Regions from separate parts of the Homo sapiens genome. Here region 1 is linked to region 2. The links come from fine-mapping of genetic effects on gene expression. A gene starts in region 2. The other region holds a variant in brackets. All regions are shown on one strand. Distances are from middle to middle. Region 1 overlaps LRRC20 (leucine rich repeat containing 20). Region 2 holds the start of LRRC20 (leucine rich repeat containing 20).

What was found.
Region 1: its variant is fine-mapped to the expression of LRRC20 in whole blood (INTERVAL, PIP above 0.99).

What each region holds. Positions count from the first base shown.
Region 1 is chr10:70,295,348-70,307,445 of GRCh38, forward strand. It overlaps LRRC20 (leucine rich repeat containing 20), which reads right to left. Exons shown (of 5, transcript NM_001278212.2): 5 at 3,628-6,161. The coding sequence ends at 6,007. Among named protein-coding and RNA genes, the nearest start is that of NPFFR1, 17 kb to the left of the region's middle. The variant G/T (reference allele first, on the strand shown) is at 7,118.
Region 2 is chr10:70,376,662-70,388,759 of GRCh38, forward strand. LRRC20 (leucine rich repeat containing 20) reads right to left here and starts at 5,964. Exons shown (of 5, transcript NM_001278212.2): 1 at 5,888-5,964. RefSeq lists enhancers at 5,175-5,794, 5,639-5,838, 6,369-6,468 and a silencer at 5,869-6,238.

The sequences.
Region 1 (12,098 bases), 81 kb before region 2:
CCATTCACAGTTTTCTATGCAAATGGTGCCAGTTACTGAGACTGCATTGTGAGTGACACCCCCTGCAGTCATGCACTGGGGTAGTCCTGCAGAGTCCACCCTGGAGGGCACCCCAACTTAAGTGCTTCCCAGCTACAGGAAGCAGGGTTCCCAGGTGCTTCTGCTGGCATGAACTTGAATGTACACACATAGGGTAGCAAGGGCTCCAGTTGGCTCCCAGCCAACGCCTTGAGTACTTCATCATCCTCAAAGGCCTGAGACAGAGCCTTTGTAGATTCCTGAACTATGAAGATGGAGGGAGCGGGGAACTGTCAATCTTCTCATCCTCTGTGGGACTAAATCTCCCATTGGCCAGATGAGCTCCAGGTATGTGTGGCATGCAGATCTGCACGGCACTGAGAGAGGTGAGGTTCTTATCTGGGCACTAAAGGCTGTGCCCACACAGCCTTATGCCTAAGGGTGGGCACAAGCAGATGTGAGAGGAAACTCTCTGGAGTGTGAACTGGGCACCATGCTGATGCACTTACCTTTGTCACCTGTTCTTAACCCTATGGGATTAGGAAAGGTAGTGTTGGCACCCACTTTATAGATGAGGAAAGTAAAGCTTCAGAGAGGTCTTTTCACAGGAATGGGTTGGTAGAAGGACCGTGTCAGCTAAAGAAAGCAATCAACCACTTCAGTCCAAGCTGGCCTCCTGAGGGACCCGGGGCTCACAGCAAAAACCCGGAACTTGCAACCCAGTTTAAACCAACCCCAGCCCTGCTCCTTCCTAGTCACATGCTAAGCCTGTTTCTTCATCCATAGAGTGGGCACCAAGAGGGGTGATGTTAACAATAAATGAGAAACACACTGGGCCAGGCGTGGTGGCTCATGCCTGTAATCCGGCACTTTGGGAGGCTGAGGCGGGCGGATCACCTGAAGTCAGGAATTCCAGACCACCCTGGCCAACATGGCAAAACCCTGTATCTACTAAAAAAATACAAAATTAATCGGGCATGGTGGTGCGCGCCTGTAGTCCCAGCTACTCGGGAGGCTGAGACAGAAGAGTCACTTGAACCTGGGAGGTGGAGGTTGCAGTGAGCCAAGATCACACCACTGCACTCCAACCTGGGTGACAGAGCGAGACTCTGCGTCAAAAACAAAAAAACAAAAAACAAAAAAACCCAAACCACATACCAGTGCCTGCCTGGTGCTGATAAAACACTAGGAGCTCCAGGGGTGCTCCTGCTTGGACCTAACGCAGCTCGGCTATGTCCCTTTTCTCAGGCATGGATCGAGCCTGCCTGGCCTGGAGACACAGTCAGAGCACGGCCTGGCTGCTCATGGGCTGGAGAGGTTTTCCTGCCCAGTTGCCTGAGTCACGCTCTTCCCCCAGGCCCGCCCTTCCTGCCCTTCACATCTGGTTCAGGGCTCTGCCGAGGCCTTCTGGGGCAGGTGCCAATTATCGCTCAGGAACTGCTGCTTGCTTCCCAGGGCTGGCTTTCTGTGAAGGGACGGGCACATCTCATGTGAAGAACAGACCCAAAGCGGGGCTCTGGGGTACAACATGGTATTTGGGTGAGACTACAATTAGAATCCTGTAGCCCCACACAGCTTCCCGTCCACATTATTCCTCCATCTTTTCCAGCATAACAGTACTAGTCCTGGAAACTCTTGCCCAGGAAGAAAAAGTTGTAAATAACTTTACTGTTCGTTCCAGGAGCTTTCTGAAGGAATCATTTAAAGCAACAGCAAACTGATCAACTCTTAATCACATCAAAAGAGAGTTTACGCACCAAGACTCTTTGAACCCTTTGCCTCAAAATCCCCCTTTGCTGTGTCCACCGATCCTAAACTATGTCCTGATCTTTACCCAATCCTAATCGAGGCTTCCTTCTCTGCATTGAAAGTCCCACCTAAAACCAAACTCTGAAATCTCTCATCACTTCCTGACTGTCTTCCCAAGTCTGACACGCTAGGAAAACTGTCAAGTTCGAGCAGGAAAAGTAGAATCAGCTTCTCCTGATTAACAGGTGGATCTGGTGATGTTTTCGGTGAGGCATCCTTCAACAGAAAACTACGCAGGTGGGAGTCCTCTCTCTGACCTCTGACCTTTGGGGTGGGGGAGGCCAGCGGCCTGAGTCCAGGCTAATCCACAGGGGGCAGTTATAAGTGATCACAGGGCCTTCAGGAGCTGAGAAATAGTGACCATATGAGTTCTGGAAATGCCCTTAGGGGTCTCCTGGTTTAGCCCCTTAGTTTTACAGACAGGAAACAGGGCCTGGAGAGGAAAAGAGATTTATCCAAATCACAAAGCTAGCTAGGATTGTTATAGGGATTAAATGAGTTAATAGGTATAATGCACTAAGACACTGCCTGGTACCCACTAAGCTCTATGTGTGTTTGTTAAATAAAAATAATTGGGCCAGGCGCAGTGGCTCACACTTGTAATCCCAGCACTTTGGGAGGCCGAGGCGGGTGGATCACCTGAGGCCAGGAGTTCAAGACCAGCCTGGTCAACGTGGTGAAACCCGGTCTCTATTAAAAATACAAAAATTAGCCATGCATGGTGACGCATGCCTGTAATCCCAGCTACTAGGGGACTGAGGCAGGAGGACTGCTTGAACCTGGAAGGTGGAGGTTGCAGTGAGCTGAGATCGTGCCACTGCACTCCAGCCTGGGCAACAGAGTGAGACTCCGTCTCAAAAATAAAAAATAAAATAAAAGGAATAATGGATCGGCTGGGAGTGGGCTCATGCCTGTAATCCCAGCACTTTGGGAGGCCGGGGTAGGTGAATCACCTGAGGTCAGGAGTTCAAGACCAGCCTGACAAACATAGCGAAACTCCATTTCTACTAAAAATACAAAATTAGCCAGGCATGGTGGTGGGCGCCTATAATCCCAGCTACTTGGGAGGCTGAGGCAAGAGAATCTCTTGAACTGGGAGGTAGAGGTTGCAGTGAGCCGAGATCACGCCATTGCACTCCAGCCTGGGCAACAATAGTGAAACTCCGTCTCAAATAGTAATAATAATAATAATAATTAGAAACAATGGAGCATCTGGACTAAAACTCAAGGCAAACTTAAGCTGGCCTCTCAGACTTAAGAAAAGCAAAACCTGACTTTAACATTGAACCCAGAGCAGTAGTTCTCTAACTTCAGCAGGCATCGGAACCACATGGAGTGCTTGTTAAGAGTGCTGGGCCCCATCCCCGAGTTTCAGATTCTGCACATCTAGGGTGGAGTCAACTATTCGCATTTCTAACTAACTTCCTGGTGCTGCGGATGCTGCTGGCCCAGAGATCCCTCTTTGAGAACCATGGACTCAGAGGAACAAATTACTAAGGGAATAATTTCTGGCACTGGTAAGAGAGAAATGTGGAGATAGTGGGTCTCTTCATCCTTTCCCAGATACACAGTCTCCCCCTGATGTTTAGCCATCCTGCAGTAACGCAGCTGGGGGGCACGCACCAATTCTGCTTGGCTGCACCTGTGCCCACCTGTGAATAATCCACGTTTCATCCCGTTCTAGCCTTCTTTACCTCGTGCTTTCAACAAGAGGGCACCCCTCTTGCATGTGGGCTGGTTTGACGCCCAGGCTATAGGAGGTCTGTACAGTGAGAATGAATCAAACACCAACCAGGCAGATGAAACCAATGCATTCTTTATTGCAGACTGAAGCTTAGGGGCTCACTCACTGTGAGCTCTGATTTGGGGGCATCTGTGGCTGCCCACACTTTCCAAGACAGACAAGGGCAAACTCTCCAAGCAGAGGAGAAAACAACTTCCAGAAGCTGCCCCTTCAAAGGCCTGAGGTGAGGACCTGGGGCAGCAGGCAGCTTGGCATGCAGGGGTTAACCAGAAAGGCCGGGTCTGGAGGGCTGGGCACACCTAACCCTCATCTCCTGGTGACTGCAGGTCACACTCCCTTCTTCAGGAGTGCCATGCAGACTCTGGAACAATCTAACAGGCCAAGTGTCTCCCAGGGTGGGTTAGGGAGGAGGCTGAGCACAGGCTCAGATCCCTGGAAGTGGCAGGGAGAGAACTGAGAGAAACTTCACCCTCTGCTCGGAGGACATCCCCAGCCTAGGTCCTTGCTTCTCAAACTCTAAAGTGCTTATAGGAATCAGCTGGGGGTCTTGCTAAAATGCAGGGTCTGAGTCGGGAGGTATAGGGTGAGGCCTAGACTCTGCATTCCTAACAAGCTCCCAGGTGTCACTGCCGCTGCTGGTCCACAGACCACACTTTGAGTTGCAAGGCTCTGGTCATACATTGTGTTTGTGCACATCAGAGAAGGATGCCTCTTCTTCAACAAGGAGAAACCCCACTCCAGGGCACAAGGCAGGTGGGGCCAGCGCAGCCTGCACAGGACTTCAGCCCCCACTTGCCCCCAACACCCACAGATGAACTCGGTAGCTCTGGAGATCCTGTCTTGACCTCCTCATCCTGAAAACCCTTTGCCCAGAGTTTGACCAACCAGGCCTTGGGATACGAGCAGAATGAACAGAGTCTCTTGAGATACTGAGCGCTCAGTGATGGCCCAACAATGGCCCGACCTATCAGTTCCTTCCCAAGAGACAAGAGACCTGGGCAGGGACGAGGGAACTGGGAGCATTCTGAGCAGGGATTACTGCTCTGAGCAGTGGTCTGAGCTCTCAACATCTTAGCCTTAGGAGTAGTAAAGTGGCCACTCGTCCACGGCACACAGGATTTGGACGGCCTGGCTTTGCCTCAAGCTCTGGGGCCTCAGGTGTCTCTGGAGATGCAAACAAAGATGCAGATCAGGTGGGGTCTGGGGCACTGAGTTGGCTTGCTCCACAGATGAGGAGAAGGTGGGAGGTAGATACCTGAGGACCAAGCAGTCAAGGTTCTTCAAGCCACAGGCGTTCTCGGGAAGCAAGAGCCCCAGGCCCTCTCCTGGTAGGGGACCAACCATCCCCACTTGCTGGGTACTGTCCCAGTTTTAGCATTGAAAGTTCCATGTCCTGGGAAACCAGGACAGCTGGTCACCCTGTTGCCTGACCATACCCTAAGATGCCAGGTTGAGGGCCTCAGAAGAACCAGGTCATCAGGGCTTTGGGCGTTGGCCTGGGAGCTGGCTGGCTACAAATCCCGTGGTCCACATCGCCTTCTGCCCCCAGGAGGCCATGACAAGGCAGCCAGGCTGCTGCTGGACTGGACAGTGGTGAGGGTGGCCATCTAATCACTTTAGACAAGAGCTGCAGGTGTAACTGACTCTGCTGTTCTCTGGGCCACCTCTCCCGCAGCTCAGGAGTGATGCTAGAGGGACGGAGCACTCAGGACTTCCCACCCCGCCAATTTGTTAACTGTGGGGAATGACAGAGCTGACGTGACTTGCTCCCCATTCCCAGCCTGCTGGTCCTCGGGCTCCTACATGAATGTTCTTGCCCTGCAGCAGTGCCAGCCCATATTCCCACCACAGCTCTCCCAGGACTCCTAGTTCAGGTTCCCACCAGTCCAGGGACCACAGGACTGAAGACTGGGCCCTGCAGAGGGCCGCATCCAGGTCAGTTCTCAGGAAGCAATAAATAGATGGAGGTTGTCTTCTCTTCTCAGGGCAGCAACTGGCTCTCAGCACTAAAAACAAGGCCTCAAACCCGCAGGGGCTCAGAAAATACCTGGCAATGCCCACCTGTGCCTGCTGATCTGGAGGTAACTTGGAGGCACGTACTGCTTAAAAACCTCCAGGGAGCCCAAAGGAGGGAAAGGGTCCTGTTTTTTTCAAGTGACAAGGCTCAGAGAGGGCAGGAGATCTGCCTGAGTTTGCACAGCAGCTGTGAGTGCCGAGTCCAGGCTGCAGGCCCCACCTTGCCTCTTCCCTTGGGCATTCCAGAGCCCACTACTGCTGTAAGCTATCTATCCAGACCAGCTGCACCCCACCCACCACGTGCTGCTCGGCCCACCCGCCCCCAGCCCCCAGGCTTGGCCTCCCATGGGCCTCCCTCCCTTCCAGGGTTCCAGGCCTGTGGCCTCTGCCCCTTGCTGGGTGGGCATGAGGAGGGTGGCCTAAGGTAGGGGGGCTCTTGCGCCTTCCGGAGACATGAGCATGTCAAACTTGATGAGCGGCGGGGCGATCACGCGCACCTCGGCGTTGAGTGGGTTGAAGCGGAGGTTGATGCTGCGCAAGGCTGGCATGGCGGCCAGCTTCTCCACGGGCACATCTATTGGGGACAGAATGGACAGGTTAGAGTGGTGGAGGCCAACCAGACAGAAAAGAAGGACAATGGGCCATGAGGACTCTGAGCACCTGATGGTGAGGGGCAGCTCTCCATTGCCCACTGCACGTGGGCTCAGCTCCTGGTGCCCAGCCCTGTGCAAAGGGCCATCGGGCCCACCAGGATATAACAACCACATGGAGGAAAGCATCCTTAAAAATAAGAATCAACTGCTTCAAAAAGTTAAACGTAGGATTGCCATACAACCCAGCAATTTTACTCCTAGGTAGAACTGAAAGAATTAAAAACAGGCATTCAAACAAATAATTTTACACAAATGTTCATAGCAGCACTATTTATAATAGTCAAATGTCCACCAATAGATGAATGGATAAACAATATGATATATACTATGTTGTCCATATATATGTCCATATATATATGATATATGGAATACTATGTAGCCTTTTAAAGGAACGCAATTCCGATACAGGTTACAACATGAATGAACCTTGAAAACATTGTGCTAGGCCAGTCGTGGTGGCTCACGCCTGTAATCCCAGCACTTTGGGAGGGTGAGGCGGGTGGATCACGAGGTCAGGATTTCAAGACCTGCCTGGCCAAGCTGGTGAAACCCCATCTCTACTAAAAATACAAAAACATTAGCCGGGCATGGTGGTGGGTGCTTGTAATCCCAGCTACTTGGGAGGCTGTGGCAGAGAATTGCTTGAACCCACGAGGCGGAGGTTGCAGTGAGGGGAAATCGCACCACTGCACTCCAGCCTGGGCGACAAAGCAAAGCTCTGTCTCAAAAAAAAAAGAGAAAATATTGTGCTAAAGAAAGAAGGCAGGCACAAAAAGACAAATACCGTATGACTCCACTTATGTGAGGTACATAGAGTAGTTGAATTCATAGAAACAGAAAGTAGAACAGAGGTTCCCAGGGGCTAGGAGAAGGGGAA[G/T]TAGGGATTTATTGCTTAATAGCTACAGTTTCTGTTGGAGTGATGAAAATATTTTGGAAATAGATAGCGGTGATGGTTGCGCAACATGGTGAAAGTAATTAATGCCACTGAGCTACAGTATGCTTAAAAATGGTTAAAATCAGCCAGGCTATAGTCTCAGCTAGTCAGGAGGCTGAGGCAGGAGAATCTCTTGAGCCCAGGAGTTCAAAGTCAGGATGGGCAACATAGTGAGACCCCAGTCTCTATTTCTTTTTTTTTTTTTTTGAGACGGAGTTTCGCTCTGTCGCCCAGGCTGGAGTGCAGTGGCGCGATCTCGACTCACTGCAAGCTCCGCCTCCCAGGTTCACGCCATTCTCCTGCCTCAGCCTCCCGTGTAGCTGGGACTACAGGCGCGCGCCACCATGCCCAGCTAATTTTTTGTATTTTTAGTAGAGACGGGGTTTCACCGTGTTAGCCAGGATGGTCTCGATCTCCTGACCTCGTGATCCGCCCGTCTCGGCCTCCCAAAGTGCTGGGATTACAGGCGTGAGCCACTGCGCCCGGCCCTCTATTTCTTAAAAGAAAAAAAAAAGGTTAAAATGGCACATTTTGTTATATATATTTTATCACAATTAAAAAATAATGTAATATGCCAAAACCACCGAATTGCATATATTAAATGGGTGAATTGTATAGTATGTGTCAATAAAACTATTAAAAAACAAAGACTATTATGTGCATAAAGAATATTTTTGCCAAGAGAGAGGAAGTCGCATACAGTGGCCTATGGAAATTCTTCTTAACTATGGGAATGCCACTCTATCATGCCATCTGCTCCATCATACCCCTAAAGAGTCCCTAAAGAAGCAGACATGACTATCTTGGGTCTATCTAAGGGAGGTTAGTTACAGTTTGAATTTATCAGGACTCCTGATAATGTGCCCTACCTATATCACTGCTCCATAAGAGCTATCTGGGAAGTTCCAGACTATATTGGATCATCACTATGCTGGATCATCACTTAGAGATGGAATGTCCTCTGGAATCAAAACAAACATATCTCCTGTCCCAGCTCTAGTTTCCAAAATTTAACGTGTAGAATTTGGAAATCAAGTTTCAAGCTGTCATCCACCTAACTTACATAAGATACTAGGGCATTTTCCAACACTCATCAAAAATGCCACAGTGTAATAAATATAAAGATAGTAGTGATCTATAATTAATTCCAGGTCCAATATTCTCAGTTATAACTGAAGACGCAGCACAGCCTAGTGTCATAGACATGAAATTTAAGACAGCCCTAAGCTGATGCCCCAGCTTTACCACCTAAAAATTTGTATTACTTCCCGTACCTTGTTTTCCTAATCTTGAAAATGGACATAACTAATATTTCCTCAAACAGAATTAAATTGGGGAGCAACTGCTTAAAGGATATGGGGACTCCTTTGGGGTGACAGAAGTATTTTGGAATTAGATAGAGGTGATGATTGCACAACACTGTGAATGTCCTCAATGCCAATGAATTATACACTTTATGTGGTTAATTTAAGTGGTTAATTTTATGTTATGTGAATTTCGCCTCAGTTTTTTTTTTAAAGGACCAGAATAAGGCAGCAGCTATACTAACACTTGGTAACCTGTTATAGTTCCTCCCACCTAACCTTTAGGATCACTCAGACAACACTAGGACGCTTGCCCTCGACGCGTGCCCTGTGCAAGCTGAGGCTCTGGCTGCATCCGCTCTTCCCCGATCCAATTCCGTGAGCAGCCGGATCCCAGAAAACCTCCCACCCTAGCACAGGACGGGGCCAGACCTCATCCCATGCAGTCCGACACAACCTCAGGCCGATAGTGATGGCAAGAGCCAGCTCCTGTCCTCTCCTAGGCACAAAATATTGCCCACGGTTGGGGGCTTTTTGTTTTTGTGGTTGTTTTGTGTTTAATTTTAGAACACACTAATGGATATTATACACATATTTTACTTTAGGCAAATGGTACTGTGCTATATAGATATCAGGCCACTTCTTTATATATATATATATATATATATATATATATATATATTTTACTAAGCACCAATAACAATCTTTTTTAAATATTATTTTTAATTTTTAATTGTGGTAAAATACAAATAAATTTACCATACTAACCATTTTTAGGTGTACAGTTCAGCAGCATGGACACATTCACATTGTTTTACAACCAATCTCCAGAACTCGATCTTGCAAAACTGAAACTCTATACCCATTTAAACAAAAACTCCCCATCCCTCCCTCCTCCCAGCACCTGGCAACCACCATGAATTTGACTACTCTAGGTACCTCATATAAGTGGACTCATATAGTATTTGCCTTTTTGTGACGGGCTTATGCCACTGAGCATAATGTCCTCAAGGCTCATCCACATTATGGCACGTGGCATTGATAATGCAGGATTATTCAGCCTTAAAAAGGAAGAAATGCCAGCCACGGTGGCTCACACCGGTAATCCCAGCACTTTGGGAGGCGAAGGCAGGTGGATCACCTGAGGTCAGGAGTTCGAGACCAGCCTGACCAACACAGTGAAACCCTGTCTCTACTAAATACAAAAAATTAGCCGGGTGTGGTGGCACATGCCTGTAATCCCAGCTACTTGGGAGGCTGAGGCAGGAGAATCTCTTGAACCTGGGAGGTGGAGGTTGCAGTGAGCCGAGATCACACCACTGCACTCCAGCCTGGGCAACAAGAGCGAAACTCTATCTAAATAAATAAATAATAAAAAGGAAGAAACTTCAGACCCATGTCATAACGTGAATGAACCTTGAGGTTCACCTGTCCATGGTCACTTGGGTTGTTCCCATCGCTTGGCTATGATGAACAATGCTGCTAAGAACATGAGTGCGCCAATATCTCTTCGAGACCCTGCTTTCCATTCTTCTGGGTATATATGTGATGTATACCCAGATGTATGAGACCCCCACCCAGATAAAAATAGAAAACATTTCAAGAACCCCCAAAAGGGTTCCCTTGTGCCCCTTTCCAGTTTATACCCTCTGATCTTCTTCATCATTAATTTAGTCTATTCCTGAACTTCATATAAATGGAACCACATAGCATGGGCCACGTTTTTATTCAAATGTCTTTAGGACTTTCAGTTTCAGAAGTCTTAAATTTTTTTACTCAGAAAAGTTGAATATTATTGTCTTAAGTCTCTTCCCCCCTCCTTTTTTCCTTTGGAAATAATTTCAAATGTATAAAATGTTGCAAAACTAAAAATAAAAACTAGCAAAAATACCAGATGACCATTAGCTAGATTTGCCAATTTTTTTTTTTTTTTGAGATGGAGTCTCGCTCTGTCACCCAGGCTGGAGTGCAGTGGCGTGATCTCGGCTCACTGCAAGCTCCGCCTCCCGGGTTCACGCCATTCTCCTGCCTCAGCCTCCCAAGTAGCTGGGACTACAGGTGCCCGCCACCACGCCCGGCTAATTTTTTATATTTTTAGTAGAGACGGGATTTCACCGTGTTAGCCAGGATGGTCTCAATCTCCTGACCTTGTGATCTGCCCACCTCTGCCTCCCAAAGTGCTGGGATTCCAAGGCGTGAGCCACTGCGCCCGACCTAGATTCGCCAATTGTTATCATTTTATCCTATTTGCTCTATCATTTGTGCATGCATTTTCTGTCTCTCTCTCTCTCTCTCTCTCTCTCCCCCACCCCACACACACACACGCTTTTTTTCTGAATCATTTGAGTGTACCATACATACGTCATGGCCCTCAGTGTATATTTCCTAGGAATTGGGACATTCTCTTACATAACCACAGTGCAGTTAAGGGTTCCAGGTATTCACATTGATAGAATGTGTATCTAACCCATGGCCCACAGTTCAGTGTGGTCAGGTGCCCTAACATCCTGTACAGCACTTCCCCCTCTAGTACCAGAGCCAGTCTGGAATCAAGGATTGCATTTACTTCTAACTCTTTGGGCCCCTTTGTCTTTTATGACATTGATATTGGAGGAGTAGTGCACTGCCCCCTTCCCTTTTTAAAAGTTCCTCATTTTGTGTTTGTCTGGTGTTTCTTCACGATTCAACCGAGACTTCGCATCCTCAGCTGAAGACTGCACAGGTGCATGTCCTTCCTGGGGTATCACATCAGAGGCACACCAAATTCATTTCTATTGTTACTTTTGATCACTTGATCAATGTGTAACTTGCTTTCTCCACTATATAATTACTATTGTGTGTTTTTTTTCTCCCTTGCATCTAACAAGAAGTCTGTGGGGACACATCTTAAGAGCGTGCAAATATCCTAAATGTTGGTTCTCACCAACATTTAGCATTCATCACCCTTAGACTTAGCATCCACTAAAGATTCTTACCTGACCTGATCTTTATGATGGCTGCAAAATGATTTCCTAATGTCAACAGTCCTCAGTATTCTACTTCTCTTCCATGTATCTATTATCAATATAGACTCCTATGTTTCTAGTGATTTACAATTCATTATTGGACTTCATTATTCTGATGCTCAAATTGTCCAGATTTGACCACTGGGAGCCCCTTTGGCCTGGCTCCTGTATCTTTTGACATGGCTCCAGCACTTTTTGGATGCACTGCCTGAATTTCTAGGAAGACACGTCTTGAGCCTTCCCTGTTCCCAGCCCTGGAATCAGCCACTTCTCCAAGAAGTCCTGGTTCCTTTCAATGGGGAAGAGTATTAGTGCCCAATAGTAAGTGTGACTGACTAAGCCGTGTTTTACATTCCATCCACGAGGACTGTGTACATCGAATCCATCTGCTTTTGACTGCTGCTTAGTATACCATGCTGTGCACCCACCACACTGTACCTCTCTACTCTGCCAGCAATGACACCCAAGTGGCCTCTATCTGTCCTTAGGAGCCAATGTGGGAAAGTCTTTGGATATATGCCCAGGAGCAAGACTGATTGCTCTGTCAATGAATATGTGTATATACCTCCACTAACTGCTCTCTAGAATTCCTGTTGAATCTCCCAGGAGCTTCCT
Region 2 (12,098 bases):
CCAGCATCCTTCTCCCCCAGGACCCAGGCTGTCAGGAAGCCTGCAGGGAGGGCCCCAGGCCACTCACCTCCTCTTGCAGGGCCGAGAGCTCAGGCCACATCCAGCTTGGCCTTTGCACAAGCTGGTCTGCCAGTCTGGCAGCTGGGTTCTACTGGTTTTCTGGGAGGATCAACATGTGTGACCTCACCAGACATGGGGACCAGGTCTGAGCCAGCAGCCAGGGAGGTGTGAGGACTCAGGGGTGTGCTGGCCTGTGATTCACTCTATAGGCAGGGCATTGGGAAGGAGGTAGGGCGCAGCCAACTGCAGGAGAAAGACACCTGTCCCTCCATCCCACAGCCTCTAAGCTGGTCCCCTGTCCACACCCTGCCCAGGACAATTTCCCCAGCTCCCCTGTTCACCCCACCCATATCTGCCTTGTGCATGGCAGGAAGTGGGGACACGAAGGCAAATCAGAGCCCTGTGATCCCATCAGAACACACGGACTGGCGGTGGGTGGTCTCTAAGAATTCCTTTCCCATGTGCCAACAGGAAGGAGAGGTTACAGTACTAGCCTGCAGACCTGATTATCAGCCTGATGCTGAGTTTATCTGCAAGAAAAGCGGGCAGGGGCCGGGGGGTGGAGATGGAAATGAGAGAAGAGAAATTGGATCACTAGAGGAAAAGAGACTGAAAGAAAGGTGAGGAAAACAAAATGATAAGGTGTTAAGACATAAGGACTTGCAAACACCCTCAACTCCCTGTTTATTACAGAGAAGGAAATGAGCACAGAGAGGGGCTAGGTGACCTGGCCAAGGTCAAAGTGAGTAAGCGGCAAGAATAGGGTCAGCCCAGCTCCATAGCCAGTGCTCACTTTTTTATAAAAATAGCAGCACCCCATAGAGAGAGGAATGAGCTCAAGTCCAAGGTCAGCACCCCTTCTTTGCCCCCAGACCCCAGTCCCAGCTTCACAGACAGCTCAAGAAGCTCCAGTGAACTCACTCCAAGGGCCAAAGGCAGAAGAAGGCGAAGGGCAGAGAGAAGGGGCATGGGGACAGTGCTAAGAGCTAACAGTCACCAAGAAAAAGTTCCCACGTGGTCAACTGGACAAGCAGGGCAGGCAAGGCCAAGCCAGGGCTGGCCAAGCCCACCCATCTGCTTCAGGGAGTTACTGTGAGTTTAGTATGTGTGTGCATTTCCACTAAAGAGGCTGACACTAAAGGTTTGAGACACACACATACAGAACAGTGGGAAAACACTGATTTTGGAGACAGGTCAAATGCTCAACACCCCCATTTATTGGCTGAGAGGCCTTGGGAGAGTTTCTTAACTCCTCTGAGCCTGTTTCTTCTTCATGTGAATAGGAGATCTAGTAATACCCAACTTGCTAGGTTAATATGAGGATTGAGAGCACAAAATGTATACACCTGTCTAGCTCAGAGCCCAGGACACGTAAATACTCAATAAAAGTTAAGAGGATAAAGCAGTGCATATGTGGATGTAACAGCAGCATATAACCCCAGTTTAATACTCATGTGAGTCTGAACAAAACACTGAGGGAACTCATCTTTGAGGAATGAGTGGAATTTCTATCTGTCCACCTCCAGGAAATCTCCTCTTATTGCCTCAGTGTTCTCTCCTTCCTCTGAGTTTCAGTAGCACTTAATGACTTAGCACAAGTCACCTGGATTATTTATGAGCTTTTAAATATACACTTGTCAGCCGGGCGCAGTGACTCATGCCTGTAATCCCAGCACTTTAGGAGGCCTAGGCGGGTGGATCACTTGAGGTCGGGAGTTGGAAACCAGCCTGACCAACATGGTAAAACTCCGTCTCTACTAAAAATACAAAAAAAAAAAAAAATGGTCGGGCATGGTGGCTCACACCTGTAATCCCAGCACTTTGGAAGGCCGAGGTGGGCAGATCACCTAAGGTCAGGAATGCAAGACCAGCCTGGCCAACGTGGTAAAACTCCATCTCTACTAAAAATACAAAAATTAGCTGGGCGTGGTGGCGGGCGCCTCGGGAAGCTGAGGCAGGAGAATCACTTGAACCCAGGAGGCAGAGGTTGCAGTGAGCCGAGATTGTGTCATTGCACTCCAGCCTGGGCAACAAAGAGTGAACCTCGCGCTCAAAAAAAAAAAAAAAAAAAAAAATTAGCCAGGCATGGTCGCACATGCCTGTAATCCCAGCTACTCAGGAGGCTGAGGCAGGAGAATCGCTTGAACCCAGGAGGCGGAGGTTGCAGTGAGCCGAGATCGTCCCATTGCACTCCAGCCTGGGTGACAAGAGCAAAGCTCTGTCTCAAAAATAAATAAATCAACAAACCAACACTTGTCTCCCCCATTGACCTGTGGGCAGCTTGGGGCCAGGGAATAGACCTATACTGTGCTTCTCTCCACACACTGAACACAGGTGCTTAGTTAGTATCCCCTAATGGTGAAGATCAACAGACATCATTTGTGTTTCCAATCTGAATACAGGTCAAGAGACTCTTACAACAAATCTAAGACACTGTCTAAATTGAGAAGGGTCAAAAACCAAATGCCTAATAGTGCCAGGTGGCCAATCTGCATAAGGCGAGCCAGTGCAGGGCAGAAGGGAATAGAAAGGACTGTGGCAAACTGGACCCAACAACTTCACCATGCTGCCTCGAAGACCGTACCCCTAAGCCTAAATCATAGCCATGTTGCTAGCATCTTGGTGACTTGTTCTAACCACTTTATGAATGGGAAAGCTGAGGACCCAAGAGGGGAGGCAAATCAGCTAGATGAAAACAAAAAACCCAGGTATCCTAAGTCCAAGCCTAGGACTCTTCCCACCATTCCATGCTCCCTCCTTTCTCCATCTCCAATTCATCATCAATAATCATAAACATTTACTGAGCATCTCCTAGGTATGAGGGATAAGAAGGAAGAGGGAGAAAGAAATGCAGGAAGCAGCTCCGACTTGCGATTCTGATGAGGAAGAGCTTTCTGAAGAACAGCACTGAAGCAATCCTGGCCTCACAGCAGAGAGGGAAAGGAAGGGAAGCCACCAAGCTGCCCAGGGTAGGGGGTAGGCCTGGTGGGATCACCTGGGCTGAATATTTTCAATCAGGCACTATGCCTGCAATTCTACTAGCTACCACCAGATGGGGAGGTGGTGCCTTAGACCAGCGGTCCCCATCCTTTTCGGTTTCCTGGAAGACAATTTTTCCCACTGTAGTGGGAGAGGAATGAAACTATTCCACCTCACATCATCAGGCATTAGATTCTCCATAAGGAGCACACAACCTAGATCCATCGCATTCGCAGTTCGCAATAGGGTTCAGGCTCCTAGGAGAATCTAATGCGGCCGCTGGTCTGACAGGACGCAGAGTTCAGGCGGTAATGCTTACTGGTGCTCACCTCCTGCTGTGCAGCCGGGTTCCTCACAAGCCACGGACCTATGCCATCCACAGCCCAGGGGTTGAGGACCCTTGCCTTAGACCACTGATGAAAACTAGTCAGATTAAAAATTTCACCACTGGTGGCAAGTTCAGACGTCCTATTGTGTGGGTCAGAGTGTACACAGGTACAGGAACAGAAACAACATGTAAAGTCTAGGTGTCAGGGCAATTCAGTAGGAAGAAGGGCCCCTTCCTTCTATGCCAGAGGATGGAGGATGCTCTGAGTACAGCAAAAATGTGCTCGGGACCCCCAAAAGGTTCCCGCTGCTTAAAATCACCACGCTTATTAACTAGCTAGGAAGCCATCCTCCCTTCACCTAAAACTGCCCCTTTCTCCACAAGGAAGAATTGTTTCATGAAGTCCAGCTGACAGGCCTGAGCTCCTCAGGGTACCTGGTCAATGCCATCTGCAGGGATGGTGGTAGTGGAGAGTCACAGAGTGTTCCAAAAGGCAGAAACAGACACCATCAGCCCACATGGGCCAGATCGCCGCTTGGGGCACCCCAGCCAGCTGGCACTACTGGCCCCAGCCAGTCCCAGGCAATAGAGGGTAGGCCTTAGAAAATGTCAGGGAAAGCACTCCAAATCCCAGAGACACTTCAGCACAGGGTCGAAGCTCATACTCACACTGCCTACATCCTCAAAGCATGGCCCTCTCCACACACCCTCAACCCCATTCCTCAGAGTGAGCATCCTGGTCCGGTGAAATGTTTAAATCCAGCAAACGTCTCCTGGACACCTTCCATAAGGCCCCCACTGTGGGAGTAAAGGGGCAGAGACTGGGTATGGGCTAGAACAAGCTTCCCACTGGGAGGCAGGATGAGCCTGATAGTAGTAAGGCTACAGGGCCAGGCCTAGGGGGGCATGAAGGCACATGGCATGGCCAGGGGGAAGGGACAGGGGTGAGCAGCAGGTGCACAAAGAGATTCAGGAGAGAGAGAGACAGGGAGCCAATGGGCTCCCAGATTACTGAGGAAGGGAACTGCAGCCCTCTTACAAGGCTGTCCTCTGCTTCTGTGTAGCGAACTAAGAGAAGTTTTTTGAGGAAGGCAGCCTAATCCATAGTTTTGCAAAGTTAACAGTGTTGTGAGCAGTCCCATTTGTAAAATGGAAATACCACCTTCCTCACCGGATTATTGTGGGAAGTAACTGATATGTAACTTTTGGGAAAGGACTTTGCGAACCATTACATGTTTCCCACACCAAGGCATTACCAGTAGGTAATCAAACAGGTGTAGAGAGGAAGTTTGGATGTAATAAATTCAATGCCAGACAAAAACGTTGTCCTGCTTTGGGGGAGCTGGCAATACAGCCCTCCTGTCCCTATAACCTGGTTTCACCTGGACTCAGGCTGGCTGGGGGAGGGGTGATTTTTGCTTAAACCCTGACCTGGCCCCCTGACTCCAGCCCTTACCATCAATAACTCTACCTTATCTGCAGTCCGGAGACCTCTGCAAAGGAGCCGCTGCGACAGCCCGTCCCCACCATCTGCTCCTATATTTAGTTACTGGTGTTGTCAGTTGGGAACGTTAGAGCCTGGCAGGGGCTCGGATGGGCAACCGGAGCCTCCGGAGCCATGTGTGCAAGCTGGCCCTACCGCTGGCTCCAGCCCGGGCTCTGGACCATGCCAAGCCGGGGAGCGGGTGGGGAGGTGAGGAGCGACCCAAATAGTCCCAAACCCCCCTTCAGATCAGAACGAAGTTGACCCACTTCCCCACCCCAGGGAAAGAAGCCCGCTGGGACGTGAGCGGGACCTGCTGGCGCCTTGTTTTTGTGGCATGGGGTTCGGGAAGCTCAGCGCGTGCTCCCTCGCTAACATCTAGGCATCCTCGGACTGAGCCTCCAGCACTACGCGCGGTAGCCAGGCAAGGGTCCCCCAGCCCCGCGTGCCAGGATCCGCCTCACCCCCGGTGCCTGCAGCCAATGGCACCTCGTCCGCTGGCCCGGCAGGCGGGGACTGGGAGAATAAAGCTGGCAGAGGGAAGAATGGTAGTGATCGCAGAGGCCCCGGGGCTCCCACGCTGCCCGGAGGCCGAGAGGCACGCTCTGGAGCAGGCGTCTGCAGCTCCCCAGAGCGGAAGCAAACCCCGAAAGTGTCGCTTCGGGGACGAAATGCACAGCAGCCTCTCCAAGCAAGGGCGCCTCCCGCGAGGAATGGAGGCCCGCCTGGGAGCGGTTCTCCGAGCTCCCTATTCCCTGGCACCTCTGCACCCACTCCCCTGAACCATCGGGGTCCAGGTGCAGTGAGCAAGCAAGAGCCCGCGCATGCCGAGCCCCTTGGCACCGCCAGAGCCTCCGCTGGTGCACCGCTGCTCTTTTCCACCGGGTGACCTGGGGGAGGGGAGGGGACGCTGCAAAAATCGGAACACTTCTCGCCCTCTCTCCCCCAGCCCCTGCAACGCTTGACCTCGGACTACATTTACTTTGCGGGGCAAGAAGCGTGTGGTCCCGCTCCGGGCCGCTTTTGGCTCCACTTACGGCGACAATGCCTCCTAGCGCCCTGCGCAGCGCAGTCACGCTCCCTCCGCCGCCGGCGGCGCCCCAGGCGAGTTCCGAGCCGGCGGGGCGGGGCGCGCGGGGCTGCGGGATCTGCGCGCGCGGCCACTCCGCCAATCCCGGCGCCAGGACCGGCGCCGCGGCGGGAGCAGGCTGGGCTCGGGATGCGCTCAGCCAATCAGTGGGGGAGCGGCGCGCGCGGGGGTGGCGCGCGGAAGGGCAGCCCGCGCGCTCCCGGCCGCAGGGAGTAACCGCTTTGTGTGCTGCTTCTAGAGGGAGAACGCCTGAGGGGGCGGAGATACAGAGTGGGACGCGCAGTACATCCCAGGATCTCTAGGACCGGGGCTCCAGATTGGGTTTTCTCGAGGGAATGGAGTTGAATTAGCCAGATCAGGGATACTTTGAAACACGTGAACATGGAGCATAGGGAAATTTTCCTATGATGACTTCGGGTGCCCATTGAGGTTTTTAGTATATGCAAGGCCCTGTGTCTCGGCCCTGCGTCTCCAATCCTAATGTTCTCATCTATAAAATATGACTTGAGGGCGGGGCGCGGCGACTCACGCCTGTAATCCCAGCACTTTGGGAGGCCGAGGTAGACGGATCACCTGAGGTCGGGAGTTCGAGACCAGCCTGGCCAACATGGCAAAACCCCCGTCTCTACTAAAAATACAAAAATTAGCCGGGCGTGGTGGCAGGCGCCTGTAGCCGCAGCTACTCGGGATGCTGAGGCAGGAGAATCGCTTGAACCCGGGAGGCGGAGGTTGCAGTGAGCCGAGATGGGCACTCCAACCTGAGTGGACAGAGTGAGACTCTGTCTCAAAGAAAAAAAAAAGAATATTTAATTCCGCCTCTAGGGGGTCTAGGCAGTCAAAGAACACACATTCCCTTGGGCCTCGATGGATGTTAAGGGTTACTTATGCCCTCTCCACCCCCAACAATATGTTAAAGTTCATCAGAATGTGATCTTATTTGGAAGTAGGGCCGTTGCAGATGTAATGAGTTAAGGTCATGCTGGAGTAGGGCGGGCCCCTAATCCACTGAGACTGGTGTCGTTGTAAGAGAAGAGACACAGAAGAGACGCACAGGGAGAACCACCTGTGGTGATGGCGGCAGGGATCAGCTGATGCATTTCCAAGGCCAGGAGTGCCAAGCACTGCCAGCAGGGACCAGAAGCTAGGAACGGGCAGGGAATAATTCCTCCTTCAGAGCCTCCAAAAAGGAACTAACCCTCCAGACACCTTGATTTTGGACTTAATAGCTTCCAGAGCTGTAAGTGAATAAATTTCTGTTGCCACCCAGTTTATGTCCATTTGTTATAGCAGCCCTAGGAAAAAACTACAATAGGTTAGTAGGAATAAAGAGAAGAGGATGATAAATATCTCCAAAGTAAGTCTTTTGAAACTGATTGCTTAGTATATGCAAAGCCTTGTGTCTTGGGGTATACTGACATGAATCAGACACAGACCCTGCCCTCAAGGGGTTACCAGTCAAGTGGATACTTAAGCAGCCATGTTTTCTGACCCCTTGTGCCTTCCCAGGGAAAACTATGGAGATCTCTCTCAACCCATCAACACCACATCCCTGCCAGATATATAGCAAGTACCAGATATAAATAACTAATGGGTAGAGTCCCATTCTGCCCAAGCCGAGATGCTGCTTGCCACTGTGGACAAAGCAGGCATAGCTACTTCTGTTTTCACTGAAAACCAGCATGACACTTCTACCCAACTTTTACACGTGGATGTCTTCTCTCCTCTGCTAGTCCATACGCAGACTTGAGACAGCCAGTACAGTGTTTCTGTACCCATGGTAAGGGCTCAGTATATACTGCTGGCTGATGGCCCCAGCCTGGGGTTTCCAACATTCATACTTTCCCTCAGACAGTCCCCTGTCCCAGGCAGTTCATCCTGGACCCTCTAACTCCACAGAGACAAGATCCCTCCCTAGCTCAAATCCACCTCTTCTATTCCTACTGTTTTTGCTTCTCCAGAGCACTTAGTGCATTATACCCATTATTCTATCATCTCTGCACAAGTCTTTACTCCCGAGAGTCTGCCTGATTGCAAATACCAGAGCTTGACGCATGTTCAGTGCTTGTATCCATCAGTGTTTCCTGCATAATAAAACACCCCAAAACTTAGTTGTGGCTTAAAACAATAACTACTTATTTAGTTCATGATTTTATGGGTCAGTATTTGAGGCTGGGCTTAGCTGGGCAGTTCTTCTGGTCTCAGCTGGACTCCCTCATGCATCCGGGTTCATCGCCAGGCAGTCAGAAGGCTCTGCTTCTGGGAAGTGGCTAGCTGCCAACTGAGGCAAGTAGGTCGCATGTCTCTCATCTACTAACAGGCTAGCCTAATTTGTTCACATGGAGCTGCAGGGCTCCGAGAGCACGAGTGGAATGGTGCAAGGTCTCTCAAAGTCTAGGCTCAAAATCGGCACTAGTCCACTTCCACAGTTGTATCGACTAAACCAAATGGCAAGGCCAACCCAGGTTCGAGGGTGAAGAAATAGACTCCATCTCCTGATGGGAGAAGCAGCGAAGTCACATTGCAAAGAATATGAGTACAGGGATGAGCAGAGAGTTGGGGCTAATTTTGTAATCTGTCACAGGACTCCATAAGTATTCTTGGGCTGGGCTCTGTGGCTCACGCCTGTAATCCCAGCACTTTGGGAGGCTGAGGCGGGAGGATCACTTGAGCTCACGAGTTCGAGAGCAGCCTGGCAACACGGTGAAACCCCATCTCTACAAAAAATACAAAAAGTAGCCGGGCATGGTGGCTTGGGCCTGTAGTCCCAGCTACTCAGGAGGCCGAGGTGGGAGGATAGCTTGAGCCCTAGAGCCCAGGAGGAAGACCAGGTCTCAAAAAAAAAAAAAGTATTCTCACAATACCTATTGGGTACTCAGAAAATACTTATCAACAGTGGTAAGATTTTCAGTCACTATGTTTACTGACTCCATTCAATGCAGTCAATTGGCAAAATATTATCCCTCACTGTTAGGGTCTACAAGCCTCACACCGTTCGTGGCCATTTTCAGTTTCAGAACAGCCAGTGAGGGAATCAGCGAGGTAGGGCTGTGCAAGGGAAGGCCCTGAGGCTTCTCGGTGAAGAAGCTCAACTGGCCCCAAACAAATAGTCTCCTCCGAGGAGATCCAGAGCATCTTTAGAGGCCTGGACCCCTTAGCAAGGTGGTCCAAGCCTGGCCACCTGAGTCAGAAGCTGTACACCCTGAACAGACTCGGATGTTTGCCAGGGCTTGGCTACAGCCTCCGGAGATGTTTGAAATCCTTGCAAATTACTTGCAGATAGGAAGAGTCTTGTGCTAAGACAAAATTGTTCTGTGGTTATTCCCTGAAGGGTCTGACCCCCACTGGGCAGGATAAATTCTCAGGGCACTTGTAAAAGGGACAGTATCCCATTGACAGAGTCAGCATCTCAACTCCTGTGACTGAAGACCCTGATAGAGTCTACTTCTCATCAAAGAACTTCTAGGCCTGCTAATTAGTTAATTTGTGCGCCCACCCCACATCCACCAGAAAAAAAAAAAGATATGTTGTAGTCCTAACCCCTAGTACCTCAGAATGTGGCCTCACTTGGAGGTAGCGTCTTTACAGAAGGAATCAAGTTAAAATTGAAGTCATTAGGGTGGGTCCTAATCCAATATGATTGGTGTCCTTATAAGAAGTGGTTATTGGTAGACAGGCAGACATGCATAGAGGGAAGATCATGTGAAGAGACACTGGGAGAAGATGGCCATCTACAAGCTAAAGAGAAAGGCTTGGTACAGGTCCTTCCCTCACAGCTCTCAGAAGGACCCAACGAATACCTTGATTTCAGATTTCTAGACTCCAGAACTGTGAGACAATGAATTTCTGTTGGTAAGATACCTGGCCTGCGGCACTTTGTTGCAGTAGCTGTAATACAATATAAAACTGTAAATTTCTCCTTTTCCATTCTATTCTCCTCATATTGGCCCTTATCTCACACTTCTTGAAAGAAAATCATCTTTGCCAGGTGCGGTGGCTCATGCCTGTAATCCCAGCACTTTGGGAGGCTGAGGCGGGTGGAACACCTGAGGTCAGGAGTTCAAGGCCAGCCTGGCCAACATAGTGAAACCCCATCTCTACTAAAAATAGAAAAAATTAGCTGGGTGTGGTGGTGGGTGCCTGTAATCCCAGCTACTAGGGAGGCTGAGGCAGGAGAATTGCTTTAACCCAGGAGGCAGAGGTTGCAGTAAGCCGAGACTGTGCCATTGCACTCCAGCCTGGGCAACAAGAGTGAAACTCCATCTCAAAAAAAAAAAAAAAAAAAGCAAGAAAGTAGAGAGGTAAGGGAGGGAGGAAGGGAAGGAGAGAGAGAGAGAAAGACAGAAAAGAAAAGAAAAGAAAAGAAAAGAGAAGAGGCCGGGCACAGTGGCTGACGCCTGTAATCCCAGCACTTTGGGAGGCCGAGGTGGGCAGATCACCTGAGGTCAGGAGTTTGAGACCAGCCTGGCCAATATGGTGAAACCCTGTCTCTACTAAAAATACAAAAATTAGCCGGGCGCGGTGGCAGGCACCTGTAATTCCAGCTACTTGGGAGGCTGAGGCAGGGGAATTGCTTGAACCCGGGAGGCAAAGGCTGCAGTGAGCCAAAATTGGGCCATTGCACTCCAGCCTGGGTGACAAGAGCAAAACTCCGTCCCCAAAAAAAAAAAAAAAAAAAGGAAGGGAGGGAGGGAGGGAGGAAGGGAGGAAGGAACATTTAAATAAAAACGAACCGAGAAGGTCCTTCCTTCCACAGGTGTGAGTCAGACCCTGCCCCGACACATCATCCTGTTTCTCACTCTGTCCTCCACCTGGGGCCGCACCTCTCCCTGGAGCTGAGCTACCGACAGCCAGGAACTAGAGGTAACTCCAAGTCACTGCCATCCTAAGGCAGAAGAGTAGTTCCCCCAGTACCTCTTCCAGAAGGTTCAGCCTGTTGAGAGGTGCCCACCCCTCTTACCCTGCCAGGTACTGCAGGTTTACGAAAATTAGCAAGAAGTAGTCAAATTAGCAAGAACTCAAGGCAGTTGTGCTCTGCTATGGAAAATACGATTCTAATCAAAGGTGACTCAAGAGGCATTTCTCAAGCGTCAGTTGTTGCCATACCACCTTCCTGATTTTTGCTATATCTGAGCCCCACCCAGTGGTGAGCTGGAGTCACTTGTGCAGACTTGGAGCTTGCTCCTTCTGCCCATTTTTTCCCAGCTCTGGGTACAGTGCCATCACCTGGATTACTAGAAATAGGCATGGTGGAAGAACTTACACCATAGAAATCAGCACACACTACAAATCATGACTTTTTTTTTTTTTCTGAAGGAAATGCTTTACCAACACACCATAGTATTATTTACTTATATTTTTCCTTCAACTCACTTTTTAACTTAAAAAAACATTTATTTTTAAAAAGGAATTTTATATCATTCCACAAGTGGAACATAGTATCATTTGCCATAGATAAAAAGTAACCTTAAAAATAGGGCCTTGGGGCTGGGCCCAGTGGCTCATGCCTGTAATCCCAGCACTTTGGGAGGCTGAGGCAGGTGAATCACTTCAGGTCAGGAGTTTGAGACCAGCCTGGCCAACATGGTGAAATCCTGTCTCTACTAAAATTACAAAAATTAGCTGGGTTTGGTGGCGTGCACCTGTAGTCCCGGCTACTTGGGAGGTTGAGGCACGAGAATCGCTTGAACCCAGGAGGCAGAGGTTGCAGTGAGCAGAAATCACACCACTGCACTCCAGCCTGGGCAATGGAGGGAGACTCCACCTCGAAAAAAAAAAAAAAAAAACATATATATATATATATATATATATATATATATGGGCTTGGTTGGGTGTAGTGGCTCACACTTGTAATCCTAGCACTTTGGGAGGCCTAGGTGGGCGGATCACACGAGGTCATGAGTTCAAGACCAGCCTGGCCGACCTGGTGAAACCCCATCTCTACTAAAAATACAAAAATTAGCCAGGTGTGGTGGCACACGCCTGTAGTCCCAGCTACTCAGGAGGCTGAGGCAGGAGAATCCCTTGAACCTGGGAGGTGGAGGCTACAGTGAGTAGAGATCACGCCACTGCACTACAGCCTGGGTGACAGAGTGAGACTCTGTCTCAAAAAAAAAAAAAAAAAAAAAGGCAGAGTCAGTCTTTTAGAATCCAGTCCTGGT